Regions from separate parts of the Homo sapiens genome. Here region 2 is linked to region 1. Evidence: fine-mapped expression QTL. A gene starts in region 1. The other region holds a variant in brackets. All regions are shown on one strand. Distances are from middle to middle. Region 1 holds the start of APLP1 (amyloid beta precursor like protein 1). Region 2 overlaps ZNF566 (zinc finger protein 566).

Region 1 (8,328 bases):
AGCTGGAATGCAGTGGTGCAATCCAGACTCACTGCACCCTCCACCTCCCAGTTCAAGTGATTCTCGTTCCTTAGCCTCCTGAGTAGCTGAAATTACAGGTGCCTGCCACCATGCCTGCCTATTTTTTGCATTTTTAGTAGAGACAGAGTTTCGGCATGTTAGCCAGGCTGGTCTCAAACTTCTGGCCTCAAGTGATACTCCTGCTGCGGCCTCCCAAAGTGCTGGGATTACATGCATGAGCCACTGTGCTGGCTTCTTACAGCCCTTTTATTGTCCTGAGTGCAGTCCCCAGCTCTTGGGTGCTCTTACTCCCTCCTGCCTGGCCTCCACTGGCTGGCTGAAGGTCCTTGGGGTCTGGCATTGGGGCGGGGGGATCCTCTGACTATTCCCTCTCACTAAGTTCCCTACCCCAGGGCCCCATTGTGCACACTGACCACAGTGATCTGGTTCTGGAGGAGGAAGGGACTCTGGAGACCAAGGTGAGTGTTGAGAGGGGTGGGGCTCCCTTCACTGTTGGGAGAGGCGGGGCTCCCTTCATTGTGTTTCCGTCTCTCTCCCACGCCTGTCCCCTCCTTTTTCCTTCTGTTGTCCTCAGAGTTGGGACTCAGCTCCCCACCCCACTCCTCCTGCCCCCTGGGCCATCTCACTCAGCTCCCAGCCTCAGTTTGCCTGTCTGCAGACTCTTCCCACACATCTGTCCCAGCCCTAGCCTCCATCTGGAGCCCCAGACCAGGGCTCACCCTGCCTGTGCTCTCCTCATCACGGTCAAGCCCCCTTTCAGCCACCAGGTCCTACACTGGCCCCACATCTCCCCAGACTGGTTCTTCCTCTGGGGTCCTACCTCAGGACAGCCACATTGACTCCAGGCCATCCCCAGGCCAGAGCACTTCTCTCTCTCTCTCTCTCCTGCGTACCTAGCACATGCCATTCTCTCTCTTCTTTTTTTTTTTTTTTTTTTTGAGACGGAGTCTCATTCTGTTGCCCAGGCTGGAGTGCAGTGGTGCAATCTCAGCTCACTGCAACCTCTGCCTCCTGGGTTCAAGCCATTCTCCTGCCTCAGGCTCCCTAATAGCTGGCTAATTTTTCTTGTATTTTTAGTAGAGATGGAGTTTCACCATGTTGGCCAGGCTGATCTGGAACTCCTGACCTCAAGTGATCCGCTCGCCCCAGCCTCCCAAAGTGCTGGGATTACAGGCGTGAGCCACTGTGCCCAGCCGACATGCCATTCTCTTGGCCTGAAACACTCCTACCTTCCTTCCCATGTCTACCTAATTCCTTCCTTTAGTCCTCCAGTCTCAGCTCAGACATTTCTTGTTCTAGGAAGCCCATGCTTCCGTCATGACAGCTCGATCATTTTGCCTGTGTTCCACCCATCACAGCCATGACCACTCTGATCTGGGCTTCCTTATCCCACCCACTATGCTGAGGGCTCTACCATCACAGCCCCTGTCATTGCCTATGCCTTTCCCAGGCACAGCCCTGACCCCTCTGGGTACTGTCTCATGATCTGTCATTTTTCCTTTGGTGTGGGATTCTGTGAGGACAGGGTCCAGTTCTATCCTAGTGACATGCCTTGTAGCAGCAACACAGGGTGTGACACTGAATCAAAGCCTAGAGGCTGTTGGGCAGGTGAGTGTCTCTCTCCTGTTCCCTCTGCACCTTCCACACCGACACCCCTCAGCAGGCCTATATCCCTCCGTCTCTACCTTTCTCTGCCTATGTCCTATCCATTTGCCTCTTATCACTGTTCCTCTGTCTCACTTTCTCTCTCTCCCAGTCCATGTGTGTCTCTGTGTCTCTGCCCACTCCTGTCTCTTTTTGTCTCTCTCAAGGTCTGGTCTATTTCAGTGTGTCTCTCCATCAGTGACCCTCATCCCCCCTGCACGCTCACAGACTTTACTGAGTCCCATTTGTCCCCTCAGGACCCAACCAACGGTTACTACAAGGTCCGAGGAGTCAGTGTGAGCCTGAGCCTTGGCGAAGCCCCTGGAGGAGGTCTCTTCCTGCCACCACCCTCCCCCCTTGGGCCCCCAGGGACCCCTACCTTCTATGACTTCAACCCACACCTGGGCATGGTCCCCCCCTGCAGACTTTACAGAGCCAGGGCAGGCTATCTCACCACACCCCACCCTCGAGCTTTCACCAGCTACATCAAACCCACATCCTTTGGGCCCCCAGATCTGGCCCCCGGGACTCCCCCCTTCCCATATGCTGCCTTCCCCACACCTAGCCACCCGCGTCTCCAGACTCACGTGTGACATCTTTCCAATGGAAGAGTCCTGGGATCTCCAACTTGCCATAATGGATTGTTCTGATTTCTGAGGAGCCAGGACAAGTTGGCGACCTTACTCCTCCAAAACTGAACACAAGGGGAGGGAAAGATCATTACATTTGTCAGGAGCATTTGTATACAGTCAGCTCAGCCAAAGGAGATGCCCCAAGTGGGAGCAACATGGCCACCCAATATGCCCACCTATTCCCCGGTGTAAAAGAGATTCAAGATGGCAGGTAGGCCCTTTGAGGAGAGATGGGGACAGGGCAGTGGGTGTTGGGAGTTTGGGGCCGGGATGGAAGTTGTTTCTAGCCACTGAAAGAAGATATTTCAAGATGACCATCTGCATTGAGAGGAAAGGTAGCATAGGATAGATGAAGATGAAGAGCATACCAGGCCCCACCCTGGCTCTCCCTGAGGGGAACTTTGCTCGGCCAATGGAAATGCAGCCAAGATGGCCATATACTCCCTAGGAACCCAAGATGGCCACCATCTTGATTTTACTTTCCTTAAAGACTCAGAAAGACTTGGACCCAAGGAGTGGGGATACAGTGAGAATTACCACTGTTGGGGCAAAATATTGGGATAAAAATATTTATGTTTAATAATAAAAAAAAGTCAAAGAGGCAAGTGTGTCTTAGGGAGTCTACTGGCATTATCACTCTCCACCAAGGAAGGGGTCCCTTAGACCTGTCCCAAGGTCCCTCCTCTACCCTAGCCTATGAGGTGGCTGTAGGAGTAAAACTGTGAGCCACCTCTCAGCCTCTTGCTACCTGCAAAGCACTCTAGGCTCTTTTTTTTTTTTTCTTGAGACAAGATCTGGCTCTATGGCCCACATTGGAGTGCAGTGGCATGATCTCAGCCCACTGCTACCTCTGCATCCTGGGCTCAAGCCATCCTTCCACCTCAGCCTCCCAAGTAGCTGGGACTACAGGTGCATGCCACCACACCCAGCTAATTTTTGTATTTGTTTGTAGACAGGGTTTCACCATGTTGGCCAGGCTGGTCTCAAACTCCTGACCTCAAGTGATCCGCCCACCTAGGCCTCCCAATGTGCTGGGATTACAGGCATGAGCCACTGTGCCCAGCCATGGGCTCTTTTAATATACATCTTCACACACACACACACACACACACACACGCACACACACACATGAGTTGCAAACAGAAAAGACACACACATAGGCATGTATGCACAGACACACGCATAGATGTCCACACAGTTGCACACAAGTGACAGGGCTGCCCCAGGGGTCCTGGGGAAGACTGAATTCTAACTCTCATTAGAGGAGACAAACAAGTGAGCCCTGAAGTGGAGCAGGGAAGGGGAGACTATGGGTAGGAAAATGGCAATCCCCTGGTCCTTACAGCAAGCGTGGAGATCCAGACCCTAATCCTGAGGTGCTGCATCCACAGTGGGCATGGTGCTGGTGCCTGCTTGGATGATCCTTAAAGAAAGGTCCTGGGGGCTTTGGTTCATGGATCCTTGAGCTAGGAGTTAAAGGTCCAGGCCCCTGGGACCCTTGGGAAGCAGAGCAAGAAGAGTGAACTCCTGGGTCTGAAGGAGAATGGGCTGGGGGCTTGGTCTCTGGTCCTGAGAGAGAAGGTGCCCAGACTTCTGGATCTGAAAGAGGAAGGGACTAGGTCTCAACTGCTGCCTTCTTGACTGGGGACATTTTGGAGGCCTGTATTCCTGAGCCCTCAACAGAGGAATGTACTAGGGGATGGGGGTCTCTGATGCTTGCATCCTTGGAAAAGGACAAAACTGTGAGTGTCTGGGTCTAAAGAGGGTGAGAGTCCTGCGGGAGGACTCAAAATCCACAACGGGCGGAGCCCATAGCCGGACTCCTGGCTGGGCCCTTCATGGGGCGGGACGCCTGGAATCTCGAGGGGCGGGGGCCTGGCGCAGGCTCCCGCCCGGGGTTCCCGAGCTGCTCCACTCTGCGCGAAGCCGCCACGCTATTGTCCTGACCAGGAAGGCGGGGCCGGCGCGGGGCGGGGCTGGCGGCGCCGGCGCAGCCCGGGGGCGGCGGGAGGAGGAGGTGGCGGCGGTGGCGCTGGGAGCTCCTGTCACCGCTGGGGCCGGGCCGGGCGGGAGTGCAGGGGACGTGAGGGCGCAAGGGCCGGGACATGGGGCCCGCCAGCCCCGCTGCTCGCGGTCTAAGTCGCCGCCCGGGCCAGCCGCCGCTGCCGCTGCTGCTGCCACTATTGCTGCTGCTTCTGCGCGCGCAGCCCGCCATCGGGAGCCTGGCCGGTGGGAGCCCCGGCGCGGCCGAGGTGAGGCCGGGCCGGGTCCTGGGGGATGGGGGAAGGGGCGGGACCGGGTCTCTGGACGCCGGCGCGGACATGTCCAGGGCAGAAAGCGCGGTCTTTCCAGCCAGGTGGTCAGCCCCCAGGCGCCCCCAATCACATTTATGAACCCAGGGTTCCAGGCCCCAGCTCCCCCATCATGCGACGTCCCAGCCCCCTCCCATCTCGAGCATAGGAACTGGTCTATTCAGAGCCCCTGGTCCCAGAAGTCCAGCCCCCTCTCCAGACCCAGGTGACTCGGCCCCAACCCCCTCCCGCCTGGACATAGGACCCACCAAGCAGCGAGGCATTTAGATCCAATAATCCAGACCCCTTGTATTCTCTGGACCCATATGGAGGCCCTTGCAGCCTCCCAGGACCCAGGAGTCCAGTCCTTCAGTCACCACCCACCCCAACCAGATGTAGCTCTCCAGTCCTCAAGGACCTGGTGTCCAGGACTGTAGGCCCCTGAAGCCAGGCCTTGTCAGCTTTGCATCCTGCAACGGGAGCCTGAGCAAGGGATGGAGGGAGGAGGGGCCAGAACTCCTGGGTTCTGGCCTCCTCCTCCGCGATTCAGGTTTAACCCCTTCGGGCTCCAGAGCGGCTGCGCTGGGGTGGGGGCGGAGTCTGTCTCCGCGGCAACAAGGCAGAAAGAATCCCGGGGGACCCAGGTCGCCATAGCAACGGGAGCGCTGGGGCGCCCCCGCCCTACGGGAGCTGTTTCCCAGGGAACGGTGCCTCCATGGAGGCGGTGTGCGGTGCTTGGGGGAGGGGGCTGGTGCTGGGGGTCTCGGTCCTAGGGAGCAAAGAACCAGGGGACCCTCATGCCAACGCCCCCCGAGCCCTCACTGTCCTTTCCACTTCCATCCAGGCCCCGGGGTCGGCCCAGGTGGCTGGACTATGCGGGCGCCTAACCCTTCACCGGGACCTGCGCACCGGCCGCTGGGAACCAGACCCACAGCGCTCTCGACGCTGTCTCCGGGACCCGCAGCGCGTGCTGGAGTACTGCAGACAGGTGGGCGGGGCCGAACGGGAGAGGCGGGGCCGCCCATAGAAAGCTAGACTTGAAAAAGGCGTGGTCCAGGGTGCTGCGCGATCTAAGGCGTGGAGGCTGGGGGGCGTGGCCAATAAAGAGGCGCAACTATGCTAGGGGCAGGGGACCTGTTTTGAGATACTAAGTCAGGAAAAGGGGAGAGCCGCGAGATAGCCAGAGAGGAAGTGGAATTTAGGAATCTGGTGGTCTTTGTAAAGAGTAGAGGTGTAGGGGGGAGTGGCGAAAGGATAGGCGGGGCTAAGACAGAAAGAGACCTTAAGGACCAGCAAGATGGGGAAAGGGGTGGAGCCCAATGAGAGCGCGGAGAGCTGGGGGGGCGTGGCCATGAAAAGACAAATTTATAACGGGAAGGGAGAGTTTTGGAGAGGCGGAATAGAGGAAAAGGCGGGGCCTAAAGGAGGGTGAGACCTTTGGGGAGACGAATCTGACTGCGGGGAGGGGTGACCAGAGAGGTGGGCTTAGAGGGACCTTCAGAAAGAAACAGCACAGGAAAAGAGATAGGGCTTAAAGATGACGGGACTTTTAAGGGAAAACTGCTAGTGGGCGTGGCCAATGAGCACAAGGAGCTTGGATATCTAAGGCTGGTGCTAGGGAGAAGCAGGGCCTAGGGAAGCGATGTCCTCATGAATACTAGAGCCTTGAAAACGGACCTGGCCGGGCGCGGTGGCTCACGCCTGTAATCGCAGCACTTGGGGAGGCCGAGGCAGGCGGATCACCTGAGGTCAGAAGTTCGAGACCAGCCTGGCCAACACGGCGAAACTCCGTCTCTACTAAAAATACAAAAATTAGCCTGGCATGGTGGTGCGTGCCTGTAATCCCAGCTACTCAGGAGGCTGAGACAGGAGAATCGCTTGAACCTGGGAGGAGGAGGTTGCAGTGAGCCGAGATTGTACCATTCCACTCCAGCCTGGGCGACAAGAGCAAATCTCCGTCTCAAAGAAAGAAAGAAAGAGGGAGAAAGAAAGAGAAAAGGGACCTGACTACTGGAGAGGGGTGGCTGGCAGGGGCGGGGCAGTGGGCTGATTGCCCCCATCTGATCCCCCCAGATGTACCCGGAGCTGCAGATTGCACGTGTGGAGCAGGCTACGCAGGCCATCCCCATGGAGCGCTGGTGCGGGGGTTCCCGGAGCGGCAGCTGCGCCCACCCCCACCACCAGGTTGTGCCCTTCCGCTGCCTGCGTGAGTCCCAGGCGGGGAGAGGGGAACTGAGGTGGGAGTTTCTGAGGGGCAAGGTTCTGAGCCCCTCTCTCAGGCCTACATTAAGGGGCTGGGTGCTTGTGTCCTAAGTGGGGCAGAGAAGCCTCTGAGGATAAAATATCTGGATTCTGAGGAGGGTGGGGTTGGTGGCTATAGGAGGATCTCACCCTGGTGTCCCGTGCTTCCCCAGCTGGTGAATTTGTGAGTGAGGCCCTGCTGGTGCCTGAAGGCTGCCGGTTCTTGCACCAGGAGCGCATGGACCAATGTGAGAGTTCAACCCGGAGGCATCAGGAGGCACAGGAGGTCAGGACGTTGGCCCACCCGTCCCCAGCCCCCACAACCCAGGAACTGGGACCTCTAACACCCTCCGCCACCAGAACCGAGGAGTCTGGGCCACCAGCATCCTCTTCGCACTTGGGATCTAAGAATTTCATCCCCCAACCCCTTCCTCTAGAAGCAGGAATCCAGGCTCCCAGCCTCATCAACCCCCAACCCTGGCAGCCCAGTTCCCCATCTACCCCCTCCCATCCCACAATCCTGGCATCTGGGCCCACTCTTCCTACAGGCCTGCAGCTCCCAGGGCCTCATCCTGCACGGCTCGGGCATGCTCTTACCCTGTGGCTCGGATCGGTTCCGTGGTGTGGAGTATGTGTGCTGTCCCCCTCCAGGGACCCCCGACCCATCTGGGACAGCAGTTGGGTGAGTGGGAGGGAACCCTCCATGCCCATCTCAAGGTTCCTGAGGCAGGGGATGGAAGCCTGGGAGCCCAGGCCTGGGTTCTTACTGCCTGGGTCCTCTCCTGCTCCCTCAGTGACCCCTCCACCCGGTCCTGGCCCCCGGGGAGCAGAGTAGAGGGGGCTGAGGACGAGGAAGAGGAGGAATCCTTCCCACAGCCAGTAGATGATTACTTCGTGGAGCCTCCGCAGGCTGAAGAGGAAGAGGAAACGGTCCCACCCCCAAGCTCCCATACACTTGCAGTGGTCGGCAAAGGTGAGGCAGTCTCTGAACCCCTGGGGCCTCTCCACCATAGAGGGAGAAAGATCTGGGGGAGTCTTGCTGGGGGGTGTCTTTGGGAGGGGCCTATAGGGGAAAGGCCCAACTGAGGAGAAAAGACGAGAGTATCTTTGGATAAAATAGAAGTAGAAGGGCTAACCTGCCAAGGGAGGGGGTGGTTTGGGGGTACTTGGGAGTAGAGGGGCCATTGGGTAGGTCTTGAGGATCATTTCAGGAAAGCTTGGAAGATGGTGTAATGGATTCCTAAGCTTTGCAAGAACAGGCCCAGTCCAGAACTACATCTCCCATAATGCCAGGCAGCAGCGGTGGCTAAACTGGGTGCATGATGGTCTCCAGTGCACTCTAGGAAATGTGGTTCTCTAGGTAGAAAAGGCGACCTGGAGGTGGGCTGCAGACTGACCTCCTGATCCCTGGTCTTGCAGTCACTCCCACCCCGAGGCCCACAGACGGTGTGGATATTTACTTTGGCATGCCTGGGGAAATCAGTGAGCACGAGGGGTTC
Region 2 (8,328 bases), 570 kb after region 1:
TCCTGCCTCAGCCTCTCAAGTAGCTGGGACTACAGGCACTCGCCACCATGCCTGGCTAATGTTTGTATTTTTAGTAGAGAGGGGCTTTCACCATATTGACCAGGCTGGTCTCAAACTCCTGACCTTGCGATCCACCTGCCTCAGCCTCCTAAAGTGCTGGGATTACAGGCGTGAGTCGCCAAGCCCGGCCCAATTTTTGTATTTTTAGAAGAGACAGGATTCCACCAAGTTGCCCAGGCTGGTCTCAAACTCCTGGGCTCAAAGCATCCACCCGCCTCAACCTTCCAAAGTGCTAGGAGATTATAGGCATGAGGCACTGTGCCCAGCCAAGTAAATTTGATTTAAAAACAACTCACATAACCTCCTCTTTACCCAATAAACTCTAAACTTTTCATTTGTTCTCTAGACATACCAGACACCACGCGTCTATGTATGTCCTGAATTGCAGTTCTACTTCTTGTATATTATTCCCAAATAAAACCTTTTACTTAGCGATTCGTCTCTATGTCTTTTTACGTTGACACAACTTTTTTATTTTAAGTTTTAATTTTTATGGGTACCTAGTAGGTGTACACATTTATGGGGTGCATGAGATATTCTGATACAGGTATGCAACGCATAATAATCACCAGGGTAAATGGAGTATCTGTCACATCAAGCATTTGCTGTTTATGTTATAAACATCCCAATTATACCCTTTTATTTTTAAATGCACAATAAATTATTGTCGACTGTAATCACTGTGTTGTGCTTTTGACATAACTGTTTTAGACTTTGATGGATTTTGTTATGCATGGTATTTTCTAAGGTAATTCTTAAAGCATAGAAATAATATATAGAATTTCCAAGCTAGTAACCATAAACAACGACATGATTATTAAAGCTCCTGAAGAAAACAAGGAGGAAAAATATATATATATATGTATATATAATTGACAAGATAAACAAAAGAACAAAGATAGATTTAAAACCAAATATATTAGTAATCACATCGAATAAAAGTGAATATAATACTTTACTTAAAAGACAAAGGTGGGGCCGGGCGCGGTGGCTCACGCCTGTAATGCAAGCACTTTGGGAGGCCAAGGCGGGTGGATCACAAGGTCAGGAATTCAAGACCAGCCTCGCCAACATGGCGAAACCCCATCTCTACTAAAAATACAAAAATTAGCTGGGCATGGCGGCGCGTGCCTGTAATCCCAGCTACTTGGGAGGCTGAGGCAGGAGAATCGCTTGAACCCAGGAAGCAGATGTTGCAGTGAGCCGAGACTGCGCCACTGCACTCCAACCTGGCAACAGAGCGAGACTCCGTCTCAAAAAAAAAAAAAAAAAAAAGACAAAGGTTGTCAGACTGGAATTTTAAAAGTTCAAGTATAGTCCGGGCGCGGTGGCTCACGCCTGTTATCCCAGCACTTTGGGAGGCCGAGGCAGGCGGATCATGAGGTTAGGAGATCGAGACCATCCTGGCTAACACGGTGAAACCCCATCTCTACTAAAAATACAAAAAAATTAGCCGGGCATGGTGGCGGGCGCCTGTAATCCCAGCTACTCGGGAGGCTGAGGCAGGAGAATGGCATGAACCGAACCCGGGAGGCAGAGTTTGCAGTGAGCCGAGATCGCGCCACTGCACTCCAGCCTGGGCCACAGAGCAAGACTCCGTCTCAAAAAAAAAAAAAAAAAAAAAAAAATTCAGGCATATTGTATTCTCAAAAGCCATCTTTACCTTAAGAATGCAGAAACATTGAAATTAAAGATGGAGGCCAGGCACAGCGGCTCATGCCTGTAATCCCAGCACTTTGGGAGGCCGAGGCAGGCGGATCACTTGAGGTCAGGAGTTTGAGACCAGCCTGGCCAACATGGTGAAACCCCGTCTCTACTAAAAAAAAAAAAAAAAAATACAAACATTAGACGGGCATGGTGGTGTGCGCCTGTAACCTCAGCTACTCAGGAGGCTGAGGCACGAGAATTGCCTGAACGTGGGAGGCGGAGGCTGCAGTGAGCTGAGATTGCACCACTGCGCTCTAGCCTGGGTGACAAAGTGAGACATTGTCTCAAAAAAAGAAAGAAAAAGAAAAAGAAATTAAAGATGGAAAAACTAACAATAAACAAGCAAGTTCATGTAACTATACTACTTAAAATAACAGAAACTTTTTTTTGTTGTTTGAGACGGAGTTTAACTCTTGTCGCCCAGGCTGGAGTGCAATGGCGCAATCTCGGCTCACCACAACCTCCGCCTCCCGGGTTCAAGCGATTCTCCTGCCTCAGCCTCCCAAGTAGCTGGGATTACAGGCATGCACCACCACGACCGGGTAATTTTGTATTTTTAGTAGAGACGGGGTTTCTTCATGTTGGTCAGGCTGATCTGCCCGCCTTGGCCTCCTAAAGTGCTGGGATTATAGGTGTGAGCCACCGCGCCCGGCCCAATAACAGAAACTTTAAGACAAAATGCATTGTGAGACATATCTTGCTTCAAAATCCTATAATGATCTTGTCTGAGGTAGTTACCTTGCAAGGGTGTTACTGTTTTTCTTGCTCCCCTTGTAATATCCAGACCATAAAATGTAATAAAAACCTCAGCATTCTCTCAATGACCAATTATAAAATCAAACCCACATATCAAAAATATTGCCAGATTTTGAAACTTTATCTAAAAATAATATGGAGAATAGATGAAAGAGCACCTTCACCAGAGACACAACAGTGGTTACAAAAAAATGGAAAGTGAGAACATAATGCAGCTATTTGGTGCTCCTTGTGACCATGGGCAACAGATGAAAGGTTGGGGTGGGAGAGGTAAGGGAGAGTAGGTTGGTGTTTGCTGGGCTGATTGATCCTGGCTCTCAAGGGGGAAATAGGTTTGAACCTTCTAAATGTAACATGGATAGAATGCAAAGATTCCCCTGGGTCAACTCCTACCTCTGTCTTTTACAATAGAAAAAGTTAATAGAAAACTATAGTAACTAATAATAATTCGGATCCTATGAAAGAAGATTCGAGTCACTTTAAAAACTTCCAATCACAGCTGGGTGTGGTGGCTGGCTCATGCCTGTGGTCCCAGCTTTTGGGAGGCCAAGGCAAGAAGATCACAAGCCCAGGAGTTCAAGACGAGCCTGGGAAACATAGTGACACACTGGTGCTAAAAAAAATTAACTGGACATTGCAGCACATGCCTGTAGTCCCAGTCACTTGGCAGAGACTGAGGTAGGAAGATGGCTTGAGCCCAGGACATCAAGACTGCAGTGACCCATGATCGTGCCCCTGCACTCCAGCCTGGGCAACAGAGCTACAACCCTGTCTGAAAAACGAAAGAAAGAGAGAGAGAAGAAAGAAAGAAAGAAAGAGAGAGAGAGAGAGAGAGAAAGAATGAAAGAAAGAAAGAAAGAAAGAAAGAGAGAGAGAGAGAAAGAAAGAAAGAAAGAAAGAAAGAAAGAAAGAAAGAAAGAAAGAAAGAAAGAGAGAGAAAGAAAGAAAGAAAAGGGGGGGAGGGACAGAGGGAGGGAAGAAAAGAAAGGCGGGCCAGGCAAGGTGGCTCATGCCTGTAATCCCAGCGCTTTGAAAGGCTGAGGCAGGCAGATCAAGAGGTCAGCAGTTTGAGACCAGCCTGGCCTACATGGTGAAACCCCATCTCTACTAAAAATACAATTAGCCAGGCGTGGTGGCGGGTCCCTGTAATCCCAGCTACTAGGGAGGCTGAGGCAGGAGAATTGCTTGAACCCGGGAGGCAGAGGTTGCATCGAGCCGAGATTGAGCCATCACATTCCAGCCTGGGCAACAGAGCAAGACTCCGTCTCAAAACAACAACAACAAACCCTCCCAATTTGCTAAGTAAAAGGGAATGAGTCACAACTATGATTTATAGAAAAAAAGACTGGAGCATCTATCTGATTAACATACAGTTATATATTATTACTGATTACTTCTTTTTTACTCCCCTTTTTCCTTTATGTAGCTTTTCACATGCTTATATGTATGGGGTACATGAGATGTTTTGATAAAGGCATACAATGTGGAATAATCACGTCAGGGGAAATGGGATATCCATCACCTCAAGTATTTATCACTTATTTGTGTTACAAACATTTCAGTTCTACTCTGTTATTTTTAAATATACAATAAATTATTGTTGACTGTAGTTACCCTGGTGTGCTGTCAAATACTATATCTTATTCATACTATCTAACTATATTTTTGTCCCCACTAACTATCCCTACTATCCCCTTCCCCTGCCCACTATCTTTCCCAGCCTCTGGTGACCATCATTCTACTCTCTATCTCCATGAGTTCAATTTTTAATTTTTAGCTCCCACAAATGAGTGAGAACACGTGAAGTTTGTCATTCTGTGCCTGGCTTATTTCACTTAACATAATGCCCTCTAGTTCCATGCATGTTGTTGCAAATAGCAGTATCTCATTCTTTTTATGGCTGAATAGTACTCCATTGTGTATGTATACCACATTGTCTTTATCCATTCATTGATTGATGGACATTTAGGTTGCTTCCAAATCTTGGCTATTATCAACAGTGCTGCAATAAACATGGGAGTGCAGATATCTCTTCAATATATGAATTTCCTTTCTTTTGGGTATATATCTAGTGGCAGGATTGCTGGATCATATGGTAGCTCTATTTTTTTTTTTTTTTTTTTTTTTTTTGAGACGGAGTCTTGCTCAGTCATCCAGGCTGGAGTGCAGTTGTGCGATCTCCCCTCACTCAAGCTCCGCCTCCCGGGTTCACGCCATTCTCCTGCCTAGCCTCCTGAGTAGCTGGGTCTATAGGCACCTGTCACCATGCC[C/T]GGCTAATTTTTTTTTTGTATTTTTAGTAGAGACAGGGTTTCACCATGTTAGCCAGGATGGTCTCGATCTCCTGACCTCGTGATCCACCCGCCTCAGCCTCCCAAAGTGGTAGCTCTGTTTTTATTTTCTTGAGGAAACTCCATACTTTTCTCCATAGTAGCTGTACTACTTTACATTCCCACCAACAGCATATGAGGGTTCTCTTTTCTCCACATCCTCACCAGCACTTGTTATTGCATGTCCTTTGGATAAAAGCCATTTTATTTTTATTTTATTATTATTATTATTTTTGGGACAGAGTTTCACTCTTGTTGCCTGGGCTGGAGTGCAATGGTGCGATTTCGGCTCACTGCAACCTCCACCTCCTGGGTTCAAGCAATTCTACTGCCTCAGCCTCCCGAGTAGCTGGGATTACAGGCACCCGCCACCACACCCGGCTAATTTTGTATTTTTAGTAGAGATTGGGGTTTCTCCATGTTGGTCAGGCTGGTCTCGAACTCCTGACCTCAGGTGATCCACCTGCCTCGGCCTCCCAAAGTGCTGGGATTACAGGCATAAGCCACTGGGCCCAGCTTCCTAAAACCCCTTTTTAACTGGGGTGAGATGATATCTCATTGTAGTTTTGATTTGCATTTCTCTGAGGATCAGTGATGTTGAGCACCTTTTCACATATCTGTTGGCCATTTGTATGTCTTCTTTTGAGAAATGTCTATTCAGATCTTTTGCCCATTTAAAAAATCAGATTAGATTTTCTTCCTGTTGTTTGAGCTCCTTGTATATTATTAATCCCTTGTCAGATGGATAGTTTGCAAATTTTTTTCCCATGCTGTGGGTTGTCCCTTCACTTTGTTGATTGTTTCCTTTGCTGTGCTCCAGAAGCTTTTTAACTTGATGTGATCCCATTTATCCATTTCTGCTTTCATTACCTGGGATGTTGGGGTATTTATTACTCAAGAAATCTTTGTCCAGACCAATATCCTGGTCTTTAATCTTTTTTTTTTTTCTTCCCTGGCTGGAATGCAATGGCGCGATCTTGGCTCACTGCAACTTCCGCCTCCCAGGTTCAAGTGATTCTCCTGCCTCAGCCTCCAAGTTGCTGGGATTACAGGCTCGCACCGCCATGCCTGGCTAATGTTTTTCATATTTTATTTTTTGAGACGGAGTCTTGCTCTGTCGCCAGGCTGGAGTGCAGTGGTGTGATCTCGGCTTACTGCAACCTCCACCTCCTGGGTTCAAGTGATTCTCCTGCCTTAGCCTCCAAAGTAGCTGGGACTACAGGCGCGTGCCACCATGCCCAGCTAATTTTTGTATTTTTAGTAGAGATGGGGTTTCACCATGTTGGCCAGGATGGTCTCGATCTCTTGAACTCGTGATCCACCCGCCTCGACCTCCCAAAGTGCTGGGATTACAGGCGTGAGCCACCGTGCCCCGCCGTTTTGTTTTGTTTTTTTTTTGAGACAGTCTTGCTCTGTTGCCCAAGCTGGAGTGCAGTGGCATGATCTTGGCTCACTGCAGCCTCTGTCTTCCAAGTTCAAGCGATCCTCCCGCCTCAGCTTCCAGAGTTTCTGGGATTACAGGCACATGCCACCACACCCAGCTAATTTTTGTATTTTAGTAGAGACGGGGTTTCTCCATGTTGGCCAGGCTGGTCTCAAACTCCAGACTTCAGCTGATCCACCTGCCTCTGCCTCCCAAAGTGCTGGGATTATAGGCATGAGCCACAATGCCTGGCCTCATTTTGATTTGATTTTTGTATATGGTGAGATGTAGGGGTTTAGTTTCAGTCTGCATGTGGATATTGTTCTCCCAGCACCATCTACTGAAGAGACTATCGTTTCCCCAATGTATGTTCTTGGCACCTTTGTTGAAAATGAGTTCACTGTAGATGTACGGATGTATTTCCAGGTTCTCTATTCTGTTCCATCGGTTGATGTGTCTGTTTTTATGCCAGTACCATGCAGTTTTGGTTACTATAGCTCAGCAGTATAATTTGAAGTCAGGTAATGTGATTTCTCCAGTTTTGTTCTTTTTGCTTAGGATGGCTTTGGATATTCTGGGTCTTTTGTGGCTATTTTAGGGCTATTTTTTCTATTTCTGTGAATAATGTCATTGGTATTTTTATAGGGATTGCATTGAACCTGTGGTTTATTTCTGTAGTTTACACTTAAAAGTAAGATGACAGAATGTCTACACAGAATCCTCACAGATATAAAGTATAGATATTGCCCATCACATTTTCAGTTGAATGAAAATGGGATGGAAATAGGAATAGAAAATCTATTTTCTATAAAGTAGGAATAGAAAATCATAGCCTGTACTAGAGACCATGGAGAAATTAAGGGTCCAATGAAGGGAGGTAATATACACAGTTTTAACACATTTCACCAAGGCAATAAGTCATTTCTCTTATAACACACAAACAAGAGTAGGGCTAAAAATAGGAAGAAGAAAACAAAATCTCAAAAACTGGCTGTTCTGTAAAAAATGAGTAAAATATGGTTAAAAAAAAAAAGTGCTGCCCAATACCCACTCTCACCAGGTCTGTGGTCTGCATATGCAATAAGAAAATAAGATGGCCCAGGCGCAGTGGCTCATGCCTATAATCCCAGCACTTTGGGAGGCCAAGGCGGGCGGATCACAAGTTCAAGAGATCGAGACCATCCTGGCCAACATGGTGAAACCCTGTCTCTACTAAAAATACAAAAATTAGCTGGGCGTGGTGGTGTGCACCTGTAGTCCCAGCTACTCAGGAGGCTGAGGCAGGAGAATCACTTGAACCCAGGAGGCAGAGGTTGCAGTGAGCCAAGATCGCGCCACGGCACTCCGGCCTGGCGACAGAGGGAGACTCCGTCTCAAATAAAATAAAATAAAATAGATATAAAAAATATTGTGAGATAGGTATGTCACCTTTATCTGCAGATTATATAACTATAGAGCCCAAAAGAATCTATCACCTTATAAGCAGAACTCTAATAAATTTTCAGGTATTACTAGCATATTTTAAGTATTGTGAGACATCACAGTAGATGGTGTTATTATTAGATATTAGAGAGTCAAGAGGATGAAGAGTTATAAAAGAAACCTCAAGATGTGTTAATGAATTCCATTCAGTGTCAATTGTTTATTCATGTAGGATACTCTGCATTTAAACTGAATGAAATTCAAAATATAATCCTAATGGGGTTTTCATTGGAAAATAAATGAGTCAAAAATTCTCATGAAGAAACATCTTTATTTCCAAATAATAAACTATATATTAATAATATATACATACATCTTTATTTCCAAGTAATAAAAGCTATTGAAAAGTGTCAAGGATTGCTAGAATATGGAGAACAGAAATAGATGTGAGCATTTAATATACAACTGATAGTATTTTAATTCAGTAGGAGAAAGGTGAATAATAGTTACTTCTGGCATAACTGGTTTTATTCCTGGATAGAAACAAGTCTGACATCCTGCATTAGATCGTATAATCAATTCCTGATGTATTAAAATATTAAATCTCTGTGTATACACACTCACAGAATCACA

The links. PIP is the estimated chance that this variant, and not a neighbour inherited with it, causes the effect.
Region 2: its variant is fine-mapped to the expression of APLP1 in breast (GTEx, PIP above 0.99).

What each region holds. Positions count from the first base shown.
Region 1 is chr19:35,864,235-35,872,562 of GRCh38, forward strand. APLP1 (amyloid beta precursor like protein 1) reads left to right here and starts at 4,340. Exons shown (of 17, transcript NM_001024807.3): 1 at 4,340-4,549; 2 at 5,433-5,576; 3 at 6,662-6,794; 4 at 7,003-7,115; 5 at 7,378-7,511; 6 at 7,624-7,802; 7 at 8,249-8,328. The coding sequence starts at 4,403. KIRREL2 (kirre like nephrin family adhesion molecule 2) reads left to right here. Exons shown (of 15, transcript NM_199180.4): 14 at 414-479; 15 at 1,923-2,902. The coding sequence ends at 2,258. LOC107985317 (a long non-coding RNA gene) reads right to left here and starts at 5,123. Exons shown (of 4, transcript XR_001753932.2): 1 at 4,858-5,123; 2 at 3,641-3,896; 3 at 2,253-2,359. RefSeq lists silencers at 4,161-4,420, 4,511-4,580.
Region 2 is chr19:36,437,113-36,445,440 of GRCh38, forward strand. ZNF566 (zinc finger protein 566) reads right to left here. Exons shown (of 5, transcript NM_001145344.1): 5 at 8,007-8,328. Among named protein-coding and RNA genes, the nearest start is that of ZFP82, 23 kb to the left of the region's middle. The variant C/T (reference allele first, on the strand shown) is at 4,794.